Regions from separate parts of the Homo sapiens genome. Here region 2 is reported to be linked to region 1. The links are microRNA targets in miRTarBase. Many come from high-throughput screens and were not tested one by one. Region 1 holds a microRNA gene; the other region holds the end of a gene's coding sequence.
What was found. Region 1 holds the annotated microRNA hsa-miR-582-3p (UAACUGGUUGAACAACUGAACC, at 2,075-2,096, shown strand). A microRNA usually pairs through its seed, bases 2 to 8, with sites in the 3' UTR of a target mRNA and lowers its output. Matches are read on the target gene's strand: a 7mer-m8 pairs with bases 2 to 8, a 7mer-A1 pairs with bases 2 to 7 and ends in A, and an 8mer does both.

Region 2: miRTarBase lists CEACAM5 as a target of hsa-miR-582-3p. Seed matches in the 3' UTR shown: 7mer-A1 at 622-628.

The regions. Positions count from the first base shown.
Region 1 is chr5:59,702,726-59,705,725 of GRCh38, reverse strand. MIR582 (microRNA 582) reads left to right here and starts at 2,023; the gene lies at 2,023-2,120. The region is part of intron 1 of PDE4D (phosphodiesterase 4D); the gene reads left to right.
Region 2 is chr19:41,726,868-41,729,995 of GRCh38, reverse strand. CEACAM5 (CEA cell adhesion molecule 5) reads right to left here. Exons shown (of 10, transcript NM_004363.6): 9 at 2,644-2,762; 10 at 1-812. The coding sequence ends at 2,680. Among named protein-coding and RNA genes, the nearest start is that of CEACAM5, 20 kb to the right of the region's middle.

The DNA.
Region 1 (3,000 bases):
TTCCTGGCACAAAGTTAAGTACATGATAAAATGGAACTATTAATATTAGTAACCCAGATAGGTTCTGGGCACATTAGCAGGAAAGGTCTTCTTAATTTAAGTAAGGTGCTAAAAGCATCTAATTTTATTAGGATTGTTATGAAACAAAAACTAAATGTGCAAGAAAATATATTTACCGTAGCCTGGGGAAAATTGTCATGGTTTCTCTTTTCAAAGAATTCAATTTGGTAAGAAACAGCCTTCAATGGTCCATGAAAAGTGAGAAGTGTAGGGAATAAGAGGCTCTTTCCTATGTTTGCATTTCAGGCTTGCCTTCTTACTTTTAAATTTATCTTTACAATTGCCTTCCTGCTGGGTTTGTGTCTTCCTCAGTTTAGGGAAGGTGACAAGAAAAGTCCTGTTTGTGTGTAATTGACATGAAAAATGGTAGGCTTTTAACTCAAGGAGGCTCCAGACAACAGTTTGGTTATTAAGGAAGGGGAGGACCTAGGGGAACAATTGTTTCTGGCCTCTCTTCTTCTCAGGCCTGGAACAATCTTTCATTTACTATATTCTTGCCACAAGAGCACAGTCAATATTAAATTCCAAAAAAAGAAAAATCCCTCACAGAAACAGCTGTGTTCAATATACAGCCAGTTTACTCTGGCGAATTGCTAGACATGGAACAGTTTTCATTTCTTTTTGTGTTTATCCCTGATAGTTGTCTTGTAAAATCTGCCTTTTGTAAATAAGGGAAGGCTGGTTTTAAACAGCTTTGACTAATATTGGTAGTTGGAGTATTCAGTATTACAGAGTTTTAGAGAACTAAAATAAACCTGATGGAAACACACACATATTTCAAAGGAAACATTTTAAGGTGTTCTGGTTCCATTTTTTCCATTTTGTATGTAAGTTGGATTATGATACTTTTATGTCTACATTGTCTCTTAGTCAAAAATGTGAGAGACGCCATTCAAGTCTAGACTTGGACCCTACTGAATGCCTTGTTCATGGACACCACACAATCTCGATGTAAATGTTTATTGCTGATCTGTACAAAAAGGGGAAAAGTAGTTTTTTGAACAACAGAAAATACCAGTTAATCTCACTGGATTCAGGAATTATAGCAAAGCAATCCAATAAGTGGATTCTCTGAGAGTAGGAACTCAAGTGTGTTATCTCAGTTTTTATCCAGTTTCCAGCACAATGCTGGCACCATTTAAATTCTCAGTCAATGCTGGAGAATTGAAAAAGAATCCTCAAAATTTGGATGACAAAATGACAAAGGTGTCCCCTGATACAGAAATCTGTCCATGGCAGAAAGATTAGTGATTTGAGATATGGTGTCATCATTGTAGATGATGGTGTCCCATTAAGCATGTTTTCACTAATTACAATAAATGTTGAAAGAAGGAGTTTCACCTAGTATCCTTACTAATATCAGGGAATGGCCTGGGCTTTGGGGAGATGAGAGTCCTCTGCTTTCAGTTTAATAAAGTAGGATATTTGTGTTTTTGTTTATATTGTTAAATACGACGGGTTAGCTTGTCACCTACATAATATTGTGTGGCATAAATAAAGGTGAATTCCCAAATATGTGCTCCATAGTGTTGACAATGAGTAAATGTTCATTCTAATAATTGTAAGGGTTACCTCCCTCGCACTCCTTGAAATATCTTTTTATTCAAATTTTTCGAGCTGGAGGTCATGTGTTACATTTCCTGTTGTGTAACATGGCCTCCCTCTCTTTCTCTGTCTCACTTTCTCACTTTCTCCCTCTTTCTTTTACTCTCTCTGCCTCTACCTCTGACTCCTTCTCCTTCTTCCCAGCTTTGCATCAGAGCCATGTAACTGACATTTTCTTGGTTCCCTCAGGACCTGTCATAATAGCAGGCAAATATTAGATGATGATTCAATGTTTAATGAATTTTTCTTGAATGTATGTATGTTGCTTCAAGTCATTCATGCACACATTGAAGAGGACAGACAGAGCCCTGCTGAACACCACTAGCAAATCTCTCTCTAGTAGACCACAACAAGTCAATCTGTGCTCTTTGATTACAGTTGTTCAACCAGTTACTAATCTAACTAATTGTAACTGGTTGAACAACTGAACCCAAAGGGTGCAAAGTAGAAACATTTCATTGTGAAGTCGGCTGGGGACAAAGAAAACACCACCAGAACCCCCTTCAATATGCAAAGGGAAAATTCCTTCTCAAGTACAAGCTACATGGTGCCTTTTTGAATTATCATCAATTTGTAATGCTGTATCAATACATATGTATTATCTGTTCTTTTGGTAAGGGTTGTTTGAAGTATAAGGTACTTCCTCCATTAAGGTGATACTAACCACATGTTAATTATTGTCTGAAAGTCACCAAGGATATGAATAATAAAAAGTTTTAAAAATAAGACCTGTTTCTTTTATTGATAGTTGTACCTCAAGGCTGAAGTGAGGTTTGCAATGTAAGTTGTAAAATGTGATGTGAAATAGACAATTCTTTGTAGTTTATATAAGGCAATATATCCATGTGCAATTATGGTCAAAAACAGCAGACTTTTAAGTGATTATTCTAAAGTTATTTTTTTCCAAAATAACTTTATTACTCTTGATATCATACCATATTCACAAAACATTCTGGTAAAGCTATTGCTCAGTGTGTTGTCCCAGTGAGACTCAGGGAACATTTCTATGTGACGCTTTAGGATTGAAGACAGTTCCACGTTTTCTGAGTAATTCCAAACTGTGTAAGAGATTATGTTCCCTTTGCATATTGGCTGCTAAGAAGCTCACTTTTTCACTTATGATACTTGGATGCATTTTGGCTTTTTGGGTTTTTGTTTTTTGGTCTAATTTTTTTTTTTTTTTTTTTTTTTGAGACAGGGTCTCACTCTGTTGCCCAGGCTGGAGTGCAGTGGCACCATCATGGCTCACTGCAACCTTGACCTCTCCTGGCTCAGGTGATCCTCCCACCTCAGCCTCTCAAGTAGCTGGAATTACAGGCATGTGCCACAACACCC
Region 2 (3,128 bases), not on the chromosome of region 1:
TGGGTTTATATCCTCAAATACGACATTCTAGTCAAAGTCTTGGTAATATAACCAATGTTTTCAAATGTATTCTGTCATACAAAGAGCAGATTTTTATTGAACTTGTGCAATAACTATATTACCATACAATATAAATATTCATGAATAGTTTCCCAAGTCTGGAGCGACCACATAGGGAGAAAATGTAAATGTCTCAATTTTTGTTCACAAAAGTATATTTTATCAAATTGCTGTAAGCTGTGGATAGCTTAAAAGAAAAAAAGTTTCCTGAAATCTGGGAAACAAGACATTTAAAGAATCAGCAAAATTTCAAATAAAAAATTATGAAAATATTATCCTCATTAGTTCATTTAGTCCCATGAAATTAATTATTTTCTCTGCTTGATCTTGGTGGACAGTTTCATGAAGCTGTCAGTTAGTTCATTAAAGTTTTGGAAATTCTCAGACAGTGCAGTGGTATCAGAAACTTGTATTCAAGAGTACAGGTCAGAGTCTTCTTTTCTTTTCTTTTTGAGATGGAGTCTTGCTCTGTTGCCAGACTGGAGTGCAGTGGTGCGATCTGGGCTCACTGCAATCTCCACCTCCCGGGTTCAAGCGATTCTCCTGCCTCAGCCTCCCGAGTAACTGGGACTACAGGTGTGCGCCACCAAGCCCAGCTCATTTTTGTATTTTTAGTAGAGATGGGGTTTCACGATGTTGGCTAGGATGGTCTCGATCTCTGGTCAGAGTCTTTTCTGTAAATATCCTTGGTAAAGAAGCAATTTTAGACTGTAGCTGTTGCAAATGCTTTAAGGAAGAAGCAAAACAACTGTCTGTGAATGACAAAGATTTAAAATGAGTACAGTTAAAAATCTGATGATAATTTATTATAATAAGAACACAACTCACATAGAAATTTAGTTACTTCTGTGGCATATGACATTATGGCTGATAACCAATTAGATTTCTAGAATTTCTTATATAACTTTTGGAATACATCAATAACATACTCATAAATATAACTTAGAGAAGGTTTAACATCACTAATGATTTGACAGTGCTTCCCATATAATTTAACATATCAAATAAGGTGGCCTTTCCATTCAGCTTCTGTTTCTCAACTAGATTCCTAATTTCCTGGTGGAGCCCATTAATGAACAGGGCCAACAAAGTATAGGCTTACGTATGTTGAAAAACTCCACAGGCAATTCTTTTTTTTTTTTTTTTTTTGAGACGGAGTCTTGCTCTGTCGCCCAGGCTGGAGTGCAGTGGCACGATCTCGGCTCACTGCAATCTCCACCTCCCGGGTTCAAGCGATTCTCCTGCCTCAGCCTTCTGAGTAGCTGGAATTACAGGCACGTGCCACCATGCCCAGCTGATTTTTTTGTATTTTTAGTAGAGAGGGGGTTTCACCATGTTGGTCAGGCTGGTCTTGAACTCCTGATCCGTCCGCCTTGGCCTCCCAAAGTGCTGGGATTATAGGCGTGAGCCACCGTGCCCAGCCAGAAAAACTCCATGGGCAATTCTAATCCTCCTAGCTGAAAGTCATGGGTTTAGCCCCAAGTCCTACCTATTTAGAACAGGGTTTCTCCATCCTGGCTACACATTAGTAGCATCTGGGGAGGCTTAAAAATTACGAATGCCTGGGTCCCACTCCAGACCAGTAAATCGGAATTTATCGGTGGGACTTAAGTATCCATTTTATAAAATGTTTCTGAGTGATTCCAATGTGTAGCTATATTTTCCGTCAGATTTCTCTAATTTCTTGTGATGTTCACTCCTTTCTATTTTGGCATTATGATTATTTTTCAGGTTTTGTCTCCTGTTATAGAATTAAGGACCTTGCCTTCTTCATTTCTGTATCTGTTATGAACATATGAATTGGTTATCAGGAAAAGGTTCTCAGTCACAGGCACAGTTGTGTCCTGAGCTTAAGACTCACAGGTTAATGCTACAGTCTTTGTTCTTCATGAGGTCAGAAGTTGCTTGTGATTAAGGGTGTGGGTAACTCCACAGTGCAGACAGTGGAAGGAGGTCACCCTGTTTGACATGTTTTTAGGTGTAACACCGGAACTAAGAATTCTGTGTACATGTGGGGTGGAGAGGCAGGGATGTGTAGGGAAACAGATCTATTAGGATGATGGAATTATATAAGGGAGTGGTGGTAAAGGAAGTAAAAAAGATTAGTAAAGAGAAGAAATGTGAACTTATCTAATACACCACAGTAGGCCCCTGTGTCTTCTTGAGTAGGCGAGTGAACTAGATTTTAGGAAGGTAATGAGGCAGTCATATGCAAGAAAGATTTCAAAGACTGGCAACAAGGGGTCAAGCAGGACTTTGAGCAGTTGTTGAGGTTTATGGGAATGGAGAGAATGACACAAGTGTGAGATGTTAAAAAAGGACCAAGAGGCTTTGACAATGTATTGAATCTGGGAAACAAATGAGCAGAGGGTGGGGATAATTATATCTAAGAGACAGTGGCGTACAGGGAGCATGAAGACCAGGGAAGAAGAGACCTGCAGGAATTAGTGCTGAGAAGCAGGAGCTTGGGGGTAGGAGGAAGAGATCCAGTCCCAGATACAGGTGAAGAAATCCCTTCCCTCTCCCAAGCATGGCAGTCAGCACTGCAGGAAACAGAACAAGAGGAAAGGCCATTATACCTACCAGTCTTCCTGAAATGAAGAAACTACACCAGGGCTGCTATATCAGAGCAACCCCAACCAGCACTCCAATCATGATGCCGACAGTGGCCCCAGCTGAGAGACCAGGAGAAGTTCCAGATGCTGAATCGTCCGTCATGGAAAGAAAAGAGAAGGAATGAATGTGATGTTATTTTACAGTGGGGTGCCCCAGGTTCCAGCTCTCAGCATGAAGCAGTCTCTACTTGTTGCTTCAAGGAATGCATTAGTTTTGTGGGAAAGTTGCAATTTTTTCTCTCTCACTGTGTTGCTAGTTGGTGATCAGTCTTCTGTCAATTCCACCCTGGCCTGTCTGCACTCAGCTATTTCTGAAGGCTTTGAAATTTGAGAAAGTCTGATTGCTATTTTTGCGTGTCATTAGAACTTTCTATCTTTTCATGGTTGCATCTTTTTCTCAGTGTCTCAGTTGTGGTAGGCATAAATAAGTCTGTTGGGTCTCTGTGGCAGGGA